Linked DNA regions of Homo sapiens: regions 1, 2 and 4 are each reported to be linked to region 3. The links are microRNA targets in miRTarBase. Many come from high-throughput screens and were not tested one by one. Region 3 holds a microRNA gene; each other region holds the end of a gene's coding sequence.

Region 1 (3,793 bases), not on the chromosome of region 3:
GGAAAGTTCAAGATTGGGCATTTGCTTCTGGTGAGTTCCTTCTGCTCATGGTGGAAGGTGGAGAGCTGGCATGTGCAGAGATTACATGGGGAGAGAAGTGGGGGTTGCAGGGAGGTGCCAGGCTCTTTTTAACAACCAGCTTTCTTAGGAGCTAAGAGAGAACTCACTCACCTCCTCTGCTCCCACCTCCCCCAGTGCACTAATCTATTCATGAGGAATCTGCTCCCATGACCCAAACACTTCCCATTAGGCTCCACCTCCAACACTGGGGATCAAATTTCCACATGAGGTTTGGAGGGGACAAGCATGATGTTGAGAGGCTAGAGGGCAGGATTATAAAGAAAGGCATGAGGAAACCTGGGTATGCTCACAATTGAGATTGTGGTGATAATTTCATGGGTGTGTGTATCAAGACTTATCAAACTGCAGTTCATTTTACATCAATTACATATAATTTTACACACACACACACACACACAGCCCTTTAAAAAGGCGGCTAGAGAGGTTGGAAGGACAGATTCAGAAGTCTGGCTGTCCCAGGTGAACACTACTCCACCCATCATGGGACATCACCCCCCATCCTGCCCCAGCAGGTTACCTCAACTGCTTGGTGCCTCAGTGACCACCTCTGTAAAAGGGGGCTAATAACAGAAGCTGTCTCAGGGGCACGTTGTTATCTTGTATCATATCCAAGATTAAATGGGCTAACCCATGGAAAGTGTTTGGAACATCAGAACACAGGAAGTACTCCATAAATAGTAACAAGCACCTTTCCCATTGCAGATGAGGAACTGAGGCTTGGGGTTGGGGTGGCGGGGTGGTGGGTAACAGGCCACTGTTTTGGTCTGTTTCGCATCCCTTACCATGGGAAATGGTTCTTTCCTCATCAACCATTCTAAGTAATTCTGGTAGGGCTGAAATTCACAGTATCCAACACCTTCAGGGAAAGTGGCCCCAAATCATACTCCAACCCCCTGGATATAGTGATTGGTGCAAGATGTTCAAATAATAATCCAAGCTGGGCCAATCAGAAATGTTTCCTGAAATTCCTCTATATTGAATAAACTGAAGTGGGAAGGGACATCTTCCCCTACCCCAGCCCCCCGGCATACCCAAGTGGATCATGTAAGTCTGGAGTGATTGGCATCCTGCCCTCCCTGCCTCACCCATCAGGAGGAAGACTGTGGATAACAGGACAGAGTGACGCCGGAGAGGAGCACAGTGGAAAAGGGGAAAGAGCCCTAAGGCTATCCTTTGAGCCCCTGGATCCAGCCAGACCTGAAGCAAAATAAACAAAATCCTTGATGACTTAAGAACCAATCAATTCATTTTTGGGCTAAAACCAGTTTGACCGATGTTTCTGTTGCTTACAATTGAAGAACTGGGTTTCATAGAGTGAGATGAGCTGACAGTAAAAGACTGAAGCTGGGAATCCAAAACCAGATCTTGCTGCTACCAAAACACACTTGATTGTCATTTCCTGCTTGTGGGATCAGAAGAGCAAATGACTGCAATTTAGTATGGAGGGGCTAGGCAATGGACTTGTACCAGGCAGGGAACAACAGTGGCTTGAGCCCTGAAGTGTGACACGAGAATGAGCTTCGGGGGAAACTGTGCAACTCAACCCACTCGGGGAAGGTGTCTCACCTCAGACCTCCAACCCCTGCATGAGATTCAAGACAAAACAGTAGGACAATGGTATATTTATTTACAATCCGACCAAAAAAAGGCATACAGGCATTTTTTTAATTAAAAATAATAATGATAATGATTTAAAAAGTCAGAAAAATTGATGATCTTTGAACCCTTTATGAGGTGTCCGTTTCCCATTCCCCCTAAAAAGAGAATCTCTTAGGGAAAAAAAAAAATCCAAGATTTGAATGAACAAAAGACTCCAATATCGCTCTCTACTGCTTGGGTTCCCTTTTCTCCAACTTGATGCTTGGTGGATGCCGCTTGGCGCTGCAGTCACTGTGAGGCAAGATTGAGAAATTCACTGGTTTGATGGGTGAGGCTGGTAGAGCCACTGGGAGAATGTGGGGCAGTGAGGGGAGGGACATCTTCCTAGCATCACCAGCATCCTGAGCTTTGTCTTGTGTTGGGAGTCCCACAAGGGCTGGTGCAAGGGTTAGCAGCTGCTACTTGAACCCTAATCCCTGGGTGGATGTGGTCTCTTGTAACTTAAGAGCAAATGTTTGTGATGACATGCACGGGTGGGCAGAGGTTGAAAAGAACAGGGGTCTACGGAGGAGCCAGGCCAGCCACGTGAGACCCTTCTTTCTAAGTTGGCTTCTTGTCCATTCCTGGGGATTGGGGAAAGAACGACAGAACTTACCTTCCATCTTCCTTCTCACAAGCAGTGTTTTGGGTGTCCCCAAAAGGAGGAGGCAAGAACTCAGGTGTGGGGTGGAGGGGATGGGGCTGGCTAAAGAAGTGAGTATGACCCCAGAGGCCAGAGAGGGCAGGGAGAGAATGCCTGGCCACTTACAGGAGGGGATCTGTAATCTCTGGGCCTCCCTGTTCTGCCTGAAGTTGGGCAGGGCCCACTGCTAGCACACCTTGGAGAGCGGTACCTCCTGAGGAAAGGGCTGGGGAGTGATCCTGAGGGGTAAGGACCCTAGCGGCCTTGGCCATCCCTTCCCAGACACAGACAAGTGGATGCTTGGCTTGGGAAATACTTGGCCCCAGGTCCAGGGTTTCTTGGCACAAAAACAGTTCACTGCAAGTCTCTTCTCTTCTTCCTTGTGGTCCAGCAAACTCCGGCTGCTCTGAACAGGGGCAATTCCTGCTGTCTGGGGAACCTGGCCCCCAGTACTTCCAGGGGATTTTCTTGTAGCAACTAAGACTTGGGTTTGCTCCTGGTGAAAAGATGACCCCGAGGCCTGGCTGGAAACCCTGCCTTGGGCAGCCCTGGAGGAGGCTGGGGAGAAGAGGGAAAGAGAGGTCTGGCAGAGGCTGGCTGGCACTGAGGGTGCTGTCCGAGCTGGAGCTGTGCTTTGTCGTGGCCTCAGTGGTGAGGATGGGCAGGGAGAGGCTCGGAAACCTCACTGAAGCTCTGGCGTGTCCTCTTCCAGTTAGTCATAGGGTGGCCAACAGCCCTGAGGAACTGAGGTGGAGACAGTGACCAAAACCCTTATCTCGGTGGATTTATCCATCCTGGATCCATTTGTTAAAACAAAGAAGGAAAAAAAAATCCAAACCAGAAATACACCTGAATAAACAGGTCAGAGAGTTCCTGTTGGAGGGAACTTTCTTAGCACTGAAGAAAAAGCAACCCACAAAAAAACTCATCCCCCACAGAACTGGAATAAGATGACGAAAAACGCAAGATTATCTACAGGCCCTCCCGCCCCCCACGCAGCCCCAGGATCCAGGAACACTGTGCCAGGAGTTACATTCCAAACGAGCAGGAGTTATTTTATTTTGCGTGCCTGCAGTCCCCCACGCAGGGTGGCTTCCTGTCCGAGGACGGAGCAAGCTTGGCCGTGGTCCACTCCAATCAGTCTATCTTCACAGCAGCATAGATCTTGCGAACAAACATGTAGGCTGCATAGAAGCCGATGGTACCCGTTAGCAGCCAGAAGGACAAGACCATGAGGGCCGTGTAGCCAAAGTAGAGGAGAGAGGGGATGAACTCCACGATGTCCAGCTGCGGCCACGAGCAGAAAGAAGACAGGGTGCATGCTTAGTGCCAGGCTGCATGGCGAACTGGGGCCCCACTCTCACTGATATCATGGGGAAACTGAGGCCTGGCCAGGGGAAGGGGCGTGCTCCAGTGGGTGGCAAGCGGCAG
Region 2 (3,800 bases), not on the chromosome of region 3:
CTTGGCAGAGCACTGAAATTTGACAAAGTGGGCTTAGTGCAGTACCAGAGCACGTCTGAAGAGAAGGCCAGCCGGAGAGAGCCTCTGAAGGCCAGTCAGTGCTCTCCCGGCCCTGAGGGGCACCGGAAAACCTCATCCAGATCGGATCATGGTACTGAGAGCAAACTGTCAAGCATCCTAGCAGATTCGCACTTGGAGATGACGTGTAACAATTCCTTCCAGGACAAAAGTCTGAGGAATTCTCCAAAGAATGAAGTTTTACACACAGACATCATGAAAGGGTCAGGCGAACCCCAGCCAGATCTCCAGCTGACAAAGAGCTTGGAAACCACATTTAAGAACATCTTGGAACTCAAAAAGGCGGGACGGCAGCCCCAGAGTGACCCCACGGTTAGCGGCTCTGTTGAGTTAGATTTCCCCAACTTTTCTCCTATGGCTTCACAGGAAAACTGCCTGGAAAAGTTCATCCCGGACCACAGTGAAGGTGTTGTAGAAACTGACTCCATTTTAGAAGCAGCTGTAAATAGTATCCTAGAGTGTTAATAGCAGCAGTCCTCCCCCTACCCCGCCCCGAGACCCCACCCCGAGACCCCACCCCGGACCAGTTACATTCGTTCCTGGCAAAAGCAAATGGAAATGGTCTCCTGTCTCCAGCCTGCTTGATCTTTCATCACAGGTTATTCTTTCTAATCTCAATCCTGTTCTTTGTTTAAGAGCAATACTTGTCGTGATTACAGGGAGATCCTTTAGTAAAATTAATCCTTGGCAGAAAGCAGTCTGATAGGCCCCACTCATTTCAAGTGTTATGAAAGTGCTTATAGGCATTTTGTTTATTTGTTTTGTTTTTTAAAAACACTGTAACTCAATGAGACCACAGTATACTTGGCCCTTGGTAAAATTTTGACAATCATAAGTCATTTGAAAAGAACAGACTTACTAAAATCAAACGAGACGGATAGAAGCTACTTTTTAAAGAATATCCCACTGCATCTGCAAATTTAGTTTTGGGTTTTTTTATTATTATTATTTTGAGTTTTTTTGTGTGTGTTTTGTTGTTATTGTTGAGGGGAAGACCACATGGTTCTTCCCCCTCAGCCATCTTTGAGCAGTAAATTGCTGGCTGTGCTGCCAGGGACCCGCAGCCCTGGTGGAAAAGCCAGTAGCACATACGCAGGGCATTGCAGGGCTTCCCTATTGATGGTTCAAGTGCTTTTCTGATGCTTCCGGAGCAAAACCTCATGCTTTTAGGCATATCTATGTTGAATTTCACCTAGGGAATGTTCTGTTCTTAGTTACAGCAGCAAAATTTGAAATAATTTCACCAGGCTAAATAAAGGAAAATGGAAACCAGTTAAGAGGCACAGTGTACAGAGGAGGCCGGGATAGAGCCATGAGGGTTATAATATTAATATGTATATATGTAAAAGCATATATATGTTAACTATTGAGAAAAAACAAGTTTTGCATTTTATAATTGGATATAGTCAACATATAATGTATGTTTTTGTTTGTTGCTGGATTTTGTTTCATTTAACCTCTCTTTGCACCCTCTCCCACAACAAATACCAAGCATCAAAAGCACTTTCATTTGAAAATTATTATGTTGTAATTTTTCAGTTTAAACTTTAAGGAGACTCTGGCCTTGTTTATGCTTCTTGTCTGAGAACAGTAGTGACCCCTGGCAGCAATTCATTACCAAAACACAGACAAACCAAAGGTAACCAGCTAGCCCACCACTGAAAGGAAAGATCTGAGACATGGGATTCCCATTTGAGAGCCAAAGGATATGCCCTGTCATGGTTTCTGTTTGGCCTGTGTTCATATTAGTGAGCATGGCTTACTGCTTTATTTATTTTTATTTCTTGTCAGGGAGTATTCTCCGTTTTCCTTTCTCGTATACCTGCCCCAGGTTATCCCATTTCTGTTGTTACCTTTATTCTTAATGTCATTGTAACCATCACTTATCTCCTCTCATTGGGAAAGCTACATGATAGTATTTTTATGCACTCTTCTCCCACACATACACACACGTGCATGTATCTGAGCTGCTCGGATCCAGAGGTCATTTTTGTTACAGTGTGTGCACACTCACTCTCCTTCTTAGTGTGCATACTCTCTCATTTATTCTGTTTATCTCCCTGGCTCTGGAGGTGCAGCCACTGGTCTTCACTTTAATGTGTTGCCAGAATCTGCTTCTGGCTGTCGCCAACATGGGGATGACCCCCATTGTCATCATGTTGGGCATTTCTTTTCCAGATTGGCCTGTGATGGAAAGGAAGGCTTCTAATTAGAAAACACAGCAACAGAAGACCTATACCCCGGTGCCCCTGTGTCCCACTACACACAGAAAACCCTGTGAGATGGCCAGTCTTCATAATAGCAACGTACCTTCACCCCAGCCACATGCCCCAGCCAATACAAATTGGAAAATCTGGCCCATTTTAGGGTTACCATTTTTTCCTTATTTGTGCCAATGTCCAAGTTGCAGATTTCCCCTTTTTCCTGTATTGTAACATATTAGATAAGTTGGTGTCGCCAGTTGGTACTTTCTGTTTGGGTAGTCCTAGGGTAACACCCTGCCCTAAACTCCATGATTTCATAGGCTTTTCTTCCCTTGGGGCTCATGCTCCCCTAATTCCTAGCAAGATGATCCTTCCTAATCAAATTCTTCTCATTGCAGAACTTTATCCCTGGAAGCCTTCATGTGGGCTGCTAGTGAGTTACATTAATTACTGCAAATCAGTGGAATTCTCAAGAGACAAGATAAGCTTCATGTACATTTGTCACCTCTCTTTCTTCCCTATCCTGCCCTGCTGTCCCAATCCTAGCTTTTCTATATACCATCCTAAAGGGTTTTTAAGCCCTAACACTTGTCTAGCAAATGGAGAGCCTAATTTACCAAAATGAAACTTGTAAATTTTTGTGTCATTGTATGTAAGTTTACTTTTTATGGAGGAAGGATTCTAGATAATGACAAATGAAGATTATGACATGTATTTCACTCCTGTGATTAGGTTCTACGCACATGGGTCATAACTCGCATGTCGAGCCCCCTCTAGTGAAGGGTAGGAGAGCTCAGCCTCGGATGGCCAACATTCAGTTGTTCAGGTTCATTCGTCAAAGTTAAGTTTTAGAACTATTTGTACTCAGTAACAAAAATCATTTTCTTTTTTTTTTTTTTTTTCTGTTGTGGAAAAGCGTGAATTTGTTATTAAGCATTTGATTTTCTGTGTCCTTAAGTACTTCCTGAAGATGAAGCAAAATTTTAATCTGGCAATTATGAAAAAGAAATATTTTAGCTCTGAAGGATTTAGTAGATTCTGTTAGATTAGGGAGGCCTTACAGACTGACTTTACTTAAAGAGGACGCGTCACTCGCTGTCAGTGTGGTGTGGGCTTTATTTGCTTAAATACCTTCATTTGTATAGTACGTCTCACTTGAAATTGCTTTGTATACATTTTGTAAAAATATTTATAAAATGTTTTGTAAAAAAAAAAAAACTATAACAAATTGCAGTTTATTTTGTTATGTTGGATAAATACTGTTAAAAGAAACCAGTCAGTAACTATATTGTTAATCCATGGTTAGGAAATGTTTAGTTGGAGATTACAAATTGAAACAACCATTGCAATACAGCCAAAGATTTGGGAAAATGTGCAACTGTGATTGTCTTGATTTTGCAAATAGGAATGGCTACTTTTCCCAGAAGAAAAGGGTAAGTGTTCAATGGGAATTCTATTTTAATAGATTTACCAATACCAAAATCAATTTACCCCAGTCAGGGAAGGGATAGGATTTTA
Region 3 (3,800 bases):
ACCCGAGGCGGGCAGATCACAAGGTCAGGGGATCGAAACCATCCTGGCTACACGGTGAAACCCTGTCTCTACTAAAAATACAAAAAAATTGGCCGGGCGTGGTGGCGGGTGCCTGTAGTCCCAGCTACTCGGGGGTGGGCTGAGGCAGGAAAATGGCATGAACCCAGGAGGCAGAGCTTGCAGTGAGCCGAGATCACGCCACTGCACTCCAGCCTGGGTGACAGGGCGAGACTCCGTCTCAAAAAAAAAAAAAAAGATTAGGTACCTACCTAATCTTGCAGTTAATATATAGGTAAAGCACTTAATACCAGGTACAATATAAGTGCTATATAAGTGTTAGCTGCTATTCTTTACTATTTTTAAGCATTAGTATTATTCTTTACTCAACCCTGGAGACCAGTGGAGACTCTGGAGCTGTTGGAATGTCCCTGCTCAGCCCAGATGGGCAGTATCTCTTGGCTTCTCCTAGGGCCCCAGCACCCTCATCTGATAACAGCTACTGGGCATTTCAGCCTGGAGATTTCTGTCTCTTATTTTAGACAATTTTTTGGTATTGCATAAATTAATCGATCTGCTAAGAAGAAGTGGAAAACTTGAAGACATTCCTGCCTTCTTTGAATTGGCCAAGAAGGTGTCTAGCCGGGTGCCTTTGGAACCAGGGTTCAATTACTGCAGAGGTATCTACTGCTGGTGAGTTGGGTGTGGTGTGTTGAGGGGCAGCTGTGTGCAGGAAGCCCTACTGGCAGATAGGCTAGGCCCTTGCTCTGCACAAAAGGAGCAGAAATTCTGCCTCCAGGACACCCGGACCCAGCAAGTGAGGGCCCATGGGGGCAGGGGTGGAACCCTGTGGAAGTCAGGGAGAGCCTGCAGCCTCTGGATGGAGGCCAGGTGAGGGCCACTTGGGCAGGCCACCAGCCTGCATCCAACACACAGGTCCGACGCCCGCATCTCCTCCAGGGGAGCTGGGAAACCAGAGATCCAGCCTCTGCTTTGTGCAGACTCACAAAGTGGTCCTTGTATATCCCTGCCCTGTCTGGGCCTCAGTTTCCCTCACTGATTCTTGGTGTTTTCTCCACCACAGGCACATAGGGCAGCCCAACGAAGCCTTAAAGTTCCTGAACAAGGCACGCAAGGACAGCACTTGGGGCCAGAGCGCCATCTACCACATGGTGCAGATCTGTCTGAATCCAGACAACGAGGTTGTGGGCGGAGAGGCTTTTGAGAACCAGGGAGCTGAGAGCAAGTAAGGGCCCATGGAGGCAGGGGCGGAACCCTGGGGAAGTTACAGAAAGCCTGCAACCTCTGGGTTGAAGCCAGGTGAGGGCCACACGGGCAGGCCACCGGCCTGTGTCTGATACCCAGGTCTAACACCTGCAGCTACATGGAGAAGAAGGAGTTGGAGCAGCAGGGTGTGAGCACCGCCGAGAAACTGCTGCGTGAGTTTTACCCACATTCAGACTCCAGCCAGACCCAGCTGCGGCTGCTGCAGGGCCTCTGCCGGCTGGCCACCAGGGAGAAGGCTAACATGGAGGCTGCGCTGGGCAGCTTCATCCAGATAGCGCAGGCTGAGGTGTGGCTGGTGGGGACTGGCGGGCATGGGCAGGTGGCAGGGCCGAGAAGACCAGGCGGCCAACACGTGCTGACGTCCACTTCCTACCTGGTGTGTAGAAGGACAGCGTCCCTGCCCTGCTGGCCTTGGCACAAGCCTACGTGTTCCTGAAGCAGATCCCCAAGGCGCGTATGCAGTTGAAGCGCCTGGCCAAGACCCCCTGGGTGCTGAGTGAGGCTGAGGACCTGGAGAAGAGCTGGCTCCTGCTGGCTGACATTTACTGCCAGGGCAGCAAGTTCGACCTCGCCTTAGAACTGCTGCGGCGCTGTGTGCAATACAACAAGGCAAGGAGCCACACACACACTAGGGCTGCGGGATGGCGGAAAGGATTCTAGGCATTCCAGGAAGGTGAAGCAGGCTTTGCAGGTAGAGGCCATATGGAATAAGAACTAGTCGGGAAGAGGCAGGCTGAGAGGGGCACATGGGCGACAGACCAGAATAGGAATGAGGATCAAGGGCGATGGACCAGGTGAGAGGAGGTGCACAGGGGTCGTGTTATGTCCAGAGGAGGGAACACTAAAGGACAGAAAGAGATGGGAAAGCTTCATGGGTTCCAAGCTGGAGGGACTTTTGCAGGTCAGAGCAGGCCAGGAATGGGAGTGGCGGAACAGGAGGGCTACAGGGAAAGGGGTTACGCCAGTGTCTGGGGTAGCTGAGAGGAGGGCACACAGTTGGCTTCTTGCAAAGGTTGGGGTACCCCTGGGGTCCCTTGGCAGTTTGGTTTATGGCAGCTCACTTCTGTCCCTTGCCTGCTTCTGGTTCTGGTCCCAGTCCCACCCTGGCCCAGGGAACCAGTTGGGGCTTCCGCTCTGCAGAGGCTCTAACTGGCTTTCCCTGCAGTCCTGCTACAAGGCCTATGAGTACATGGGCTTCATCATGGAGAAGGAGCAGTCCTACAAGGATGCAGTCACCAACTACAAACTGGCCTGGAAGTACAGTCATCACGCCAACCCTGCCATTGGTAAGGCAACCAGCCAGGGTGCACGTGAATGGACGTGGGAGGGAGGTGGGCAGGAGGGCCCCCACCATGACCCCAGAACTCAAGGCCTGTACCCTGGCTGTTATGAGAACCAGAGGGGTTCTCAGGTCACCAGGGTGCCACCATCTTTGCTCTCCATGTCCCCGGTAGGCTTCAAACTTGCTTTCAACTACCTGAAGGACAAGAAATTTGTGGAGGCCATTGAAATCTGCAACGATGTAAGCCAGCAGCCTTGGTGGGGAGGGCCTGGTGTAGTGGTGGGGAAACCTGCATGATACTGCACACCCATTCTCTCTCTGTTCCAGGTCCTCAGGGAGCACCCCGACTACCCCAAGATCAGGGAGGAAATTTTGGAAAAGGCCCGAAGGTCCCTGAGGCCCTAGCTGGGGTCAAGGGGCCTGGACCAGTAGAAGCCATCAACCTACTGAAGTTGTGTGGAGGGATGGAAAGTGGGTCAGTGGAGAAGGGATTCAGAAAATGACACATTCTTCCCCATTTCTATAGTGTATGTGGTTTATTTTGAGTCATGTCTCATCTGACCTAACTTTATGTTTTTAAGGCACAAGAAATTTTGCTCTGGGAAGAAAGACATCAACTGGCTTAACTTTTGCTGGGCTCATTGGGCGCTTTCTAACAGACCTCGCTTTTATCCCAGACTCTTTGAGGGGGCGGAGGGGAGCAAAGAGGGGGCTCCTAGTGGAATGGTGGTTGAAAAGAATCCCCTTCAGCTGTTTTTCAATGGTTGTTGCCCCTCTCCTGTCTGGTCTCCAGGATCCTGGAGCTAAAGAAGCAGATACTTCTCCCTGCCATGCTACCCTGAGTCTGCCTGGCGGTGGGCCCAGGATGCTGTGGGCAGTGGGCCCAGACAGGAGGATTAACTGCAGAAGGCCCGCACAGCTAAGGCCCTGTGTGAGAGGGCCTGCAGGGTGCAAGAGCCATTGTCCCACCCTGTCCATGCATTGTTTCCCTTGCCCCTGCCCCCCGCACCCCCACTCCCCGCCAAGTCCAGCTGGCTTCTTCTAGTCCTTACCAGTTTGGGACAAACCTGACTACCCTCGCCTGGCACAAGGAAATACATGCCAAGAAAAAATAGTTCCCACTTCAGCTTTTACAAAATACACTGCCTATCTAACATCCTACAGAAACCCTTTTAATGTCTAAGGGGGCAAATGCAGTGGTTCCTATTTAGATGAATAATGTTAACTGCAACTG
Region 4 (3,800 bases), not on the chromosome of region 3:
CACAAGTAAAGTAGTCATGTTAAGGATTTGTATGGTGCCATAAAAGCTACAAAGGGCTGGGCGCAGTGGCTCATGCCTATAATCCCAGCACTTTGGGAGGCCGAGGCAGGTGGATCACTTGAGCCCAGGAGTTCAAGACCAGCCTGGGCAACATGGCAAAACACCCTCTCTACAAAAAATACAAAAATTGCTGGGCGCGGTGGCTCACACCTGTAATCCCAGTACTTTGGGAGGCTGAGGTGGGCGGATCACAAGGTCAGGAGATCGAGACCATCCTGGCTAACACAGTGAAACCCCGTCTCTACGAAAAATACAAAAAATTTGCTGGGCGTGGTGGCGGGCGCCTGTAGTCCCAGCTACTCGGGAAGCTGAGGCAGGAGAATGGTGTGAACCCAGGAGGCGGAGCTTGCAGTGAGCCGAGATGGCGCCACTGCACTCCAGCCTGGGCAAGAGTGCAAGACTCTGTCTCAAAAAAAAAAAAAAAAATTAGCTGGCCATGGTGGCACACACATGTAGTCCCACCAGGAGGCTGTAGTGAGCTATGATCATGCCACTGCACTCCAGCCTGGGTGACAGAGCAAGGCCCTGTCTCAAAACAAAAAGCAAAACAAAAAAAAAAAAAAAAAAAAGGTACAACGATATTCTGTAGCCAGGTGTGGTGGCTCACACCTGTAATCCCAACACTTTAGGAGGTCAAGGCAGCAGGATCATTTGAGTCCAGGATTTTGAGACCAGCCTGGGCAACATACCTGGCAACCCCATCTCAACAAAAAATTAAAAATTAGCTTGACGTAGTCTCAAGCACCTGTGGTCTCAGCTACTCAGGAAGCTGAGGTAGGAGGATTGCATGAGCCAGGAGGTCAAGGCTGCAGTAAGCCGAGATTTTGCCACTGCAGTCCAGCCTGGGTGACAGAGTGGACTCTATCCAAAAACAAAACAAAACATCTGCAGCAATCTGGTGAAGCAGGAAGAGAAGATGGGGAAACAGAGAGGAGTGATTTGCCCACACGGCTAGGATATGGGGCAGTGATGGTGGGATTATTACCACAGCCTCTTATCCCACGTGCTTCCGGCCAGCCCACCCTGCCTCCCAGGCCTTGGGGGTATCTCATAAGGCAGAGTGTGTGGTCTTTTGGCCCTAGGTGACCCAGGCCTCTCTCCGGTCTCACATTGGAGTTGTGCCCCAAGACACTGTCCTCTTTAATGACACCATCGCCGACAATATCCGTTACGGCCGTGTCACAGCTGGGAATGATGAGGTGGAGGCTGCTGCTCAGGCTGCAGGCATCCATGATGCCATTATGGCTTTCCCTGAAGGTGAGAGATTCCTTTGCAGAGAGTCCCCTCCCCTCCTGGTGTTGTCCTGCTAATCCCTGACCCCTGTTCCCTCCGTTTCGTAAGAAACGTGTGGTGGGTAATATCCACAGGGTACAGGACACAGGTGGGCGAGCGGGGACTGAAGCTGAGCGGCGGGGAGAAGCAGCGCGTCGCCATTGCCCGCACCATCCTCAAGGCTCCGGGCATCATTCTGCTGGATGAGGTGCGCCCTGGGTCTCCTCCCCTCCTTCCTGCCTTGTGTATGCTCAAGCCGTTCCTCCTGGGCACTGTCCCCACCTAGAACAGATACCATGAATTCAAATCTCACAAAACACACTTTCCAGTTCTCAAGCCCAAACAAGGCTCTTGTGTATTCTTGAGGCCTCAGCCAGCAGCCTGCCTCCTTCCATTGAGGGTTTTGAGTGGCAGGAGCAGTTTTACCTGGACCCTCTCTATAGGCAACGTCAGCGCTGGATACATCTAATGAGAGGGCCATCCAGGCTTCTCTGGCCAAAGTCTGTGCCAACCGCACCACCATCGTAGTGGCACACAGGTACAGGACTACAGGCCTGGGGCGGCTGGTGATGTGGCCCGCTTTGGGTGGGGTAGTAGGCGACTGATCTTTGACTTCTCAGGCTCTCAACTGTGGTCAATGCTGACCAGATCCTCGTCATCAAGGATGGCTGCATCGTGGAGAGGGGACGGTAAGAGACACATAGATCAAAAGGACAGGTCTTCTGAATTGGGGGCTCCAGGAAAGGGGGCATGAAGTCCCAGGGGCTTCTGGAGGGGACCTCCCTTCCCATCCCGTCCTCTCTGTGGGCTGGTGGCAAGGACCCTCGGGGTAAAACTAATGGTTAGGACTCACACTTTTCTCCTCACCCCAGACACGAGGCTCTGTTGTCCCGAGGTGGGGTGTATGCTGACATGTGGCAGCTGCAGCAGGGACAGGAAGAAACCTCTGAAGACACTAAGCCTCAGACCATGGAACGGTGACAAAAGTTTGGCCACTTCCCTCTCAAAGACTAACCCAGAAGGGAATAAGATGTGTCTCCTTTCCCTGGCTTATTTCATCCTGGTCTTGGGGTATGGTGCTAGCTATGGTAAGGGAAAGGGACCTTTCCGAAAAACATCTTTTGGGGAAATAAAAATGTGGACTGTGCGAGGATCACTGTGGCTTTGTGGGATGGGGTACTGCAGCGGGCCTCTACCCATAAGTCAGATGAGCATTCTTGACACGGCTTTCCTGTTTGAGGTTAGAGAGGAGAGAGAAACACACCACTTGTACGTTTTATCAACTGCCAAGATCCTTTATTTTTTCCAGGCCCCTTCCTGCCCACTCCACATCGGGGCAGCTCCAGCATAAGGGAGATGACATGATGAAGGGGCTAAGAGTAGGGCCTGGCCAGCATCCACTGAGGGCCCAACCAGGGAACAGTTGCTAGCCGCTCTCTTCCATGCAGCTGGAGCACTAGCAAGGCCTTCCAGAGGCTCCCAGGGCGACCTCCACATCACTCCCGCTTGTCTCTGCCCTCCAGGGTGCTCCGGGCCTCCTCTCCCTGTGTACCCTAGAGGTGTGAGGGCCACAGTCCTCCTCAGGTGAACCTCCCTCCCCAAGCCCAGGGCCCTAGCACAGGCTGCAGTTGGACGGCTTCGAGCTGCGGCTCTGGGCCTAGAGCAAAGAGAGGGGAAGGAGGGGAAGACACAGTGCAACGTCAAGGAAATGAGGGACAGCCCTCATTTCAGAGCTCAGCATGGGCTGGAGTCATACTGAAAACCAGACGATAACCACCATTCCAAAACTCTGCACCACTAGGAAGAACCCCCATCCCTGACTTCTTCCTCCCTTCCACTGCAGCATATATCTTCAGCCCAGCCTCATACCTGCTGCCGCTGGTATTCTGCCTCACTGGCTGACAGTGCTTGTGCTAAAGCTAGGTCTTCTTCCTCCTGACAACTGGGAGGGAGAAACAGTTTAAGTTGGATGATGGTAAGATCTGAAATTTGAACATCTGATCTGTGTGTGTTGGGCCTCATGGTGCTGAGCACTGCTGAGGATTATCTCAATCTTCATAGCAACACTACAAGGTGGGTATTAGTATTGTCCCCGTTTTATAGAGGAAATGAAGGCTCCATGGGTTAAATAACTTGTCAAAGATCATATAGTTCATCTTAATTTTGAGACCAAGTTGCCAGCGATTATCTTGCATTGTGTCAGAGTGGTCCCACCTACCTGCCTCCAGACCAAGCCCTTGCCCACAGCTTGCGCTCTCTTTCACAAGAGGGTAAGGTACCTTGGAACCTGGGGTTTGGTTTCTGCCAGGGACATTTCCAGGGCCCGCTGCAGAGCTTCATCCTCACTCTACAAAGGGAGAAAGAAGACCAGCGTCCTTGGACTTCACTCTCTGTGTGTTTGTTTCTGTCCATCCAACCTCTGCCCAACTCACCAGGCCATTCTGCAAAGCAATCACTGGAGGGGCTGT

The links. Region 3 holds the annotated microRNA hsa-miR-6822-5p (CAGGGAACCAGUUGGGGCUU, at 2,394-2,413, shown strand). A microRNA usually pairs through its seed, bases 2 to 8, with sites in the 3' UTR of a target mRNA and lowers its output. Matches are read on the target gene's strand: a 7mer-m8 pairs with bases 2 to 8, a 7mer-A1 pairs with bases 2 to 7 and ends in A, and an 8mer does both.
Region 1: the mRNA of TM9SF4 is a reported target of hsa-miR-6822-5p. Seed matches in the 3' UTR shown: 7mer-m8 at 3,243-3,249 and 7mer-A1 at 1,853-1,859.
Region 2: miRTarBase lists BICRAL as a target of hsa-miR-6822-5p. Seed matches in the 3' UTR shown: 7mer-A1 at 1,188-1,194 and 7mer-A1 at 2,797-2,803.
Region 4: miRTarBase lists ZFAND2B as a target of hsa-miR-6822-5p. Seed matches in the 3' UTR shown: 7mer-m8 at 2,747-2,753.

What each region holds. Positions count from the first base shown.
Region 1 is chr20:32,165,151-32,168,943 of GRCh38, reverse strand. It overlaps TM9SF4 (transmembrane 9 superfamily member 4), which reads right to left. Exons shown (of 18, transcript NM_014742.4): 18 at 1,688-3,649. The coding sequence ends at 3,500. Among named protein-coding and RNA genes, the nearest start is that of PLAGL2, 41 kb to the left of the region's middle. RefSeq lists enhancers at 104-398, 3,264-3,764.
Region 2 is chr6:42,864,904-42,868,703 of GRCh38, forward strand. BICRAL (BICRA like chromatin remodeling complex associated protein) reads left to right here. Exons shown (of 13, transcript NM_001393499.1): 13 at 1-3,653. The coding sequence ends at 543. Among named protein-coding and RNA genes, the nearest start is that of RPL7L1, 13 kb to the right of the region's middle.
Region 3 is chr3:39,135,818-39,139,617 of GRCh38, forward strand. MIR6822 (microRNA 6822) reads left to right here and starts at 2,389; the gene lies at 2,389-2,449. TTC21A (tetratricopeptide repeat domain 21A) reads left to right here. Exons shown (of 29, transcript NM_001366900.1): 23 at 540-690; 24 at 1,082-1,243; 25 at 1,378-1,570; 26 at 1,669-1,893; 27 at 2,450-2,570; 28 at 2,739-2,806; 29 at 2,894-3,083. The coding sequence ends at 2,971. RefSeq lists an enhancer at 425-1,330.
Region 4 is chr2:219,208,451-219,212,250 of GRCh38, reverse strand. ZFAND2B (zinc finger AN1-type containing 2B) reads right to left here. Exons shown (of 9, transcript NM_138802.3): 6 at 3,765-3,800; 7 at 3,612-3,679; 8 at 3,202-3,274; 9 at 2,603-2,989. The coding sequence ends at 2,945. It overlaps ABCB6 (ATP binding cassette subfamily B member 6 (LAN blood group)), which reads left to right. Exons shown (of 19, transcript NM_005689.4): 15 at 1,143-1,317; 16 at 1,428-1,540; 17 at 1,776-1,870; 18 at 1,953-2,021; 19 at 2,205-2,479. The coding sequence ends at 2,313. Among named protein-coding and RNA genes, the nearest start is that of ZFAND2B, 3.6 kb to the right of the region's middle.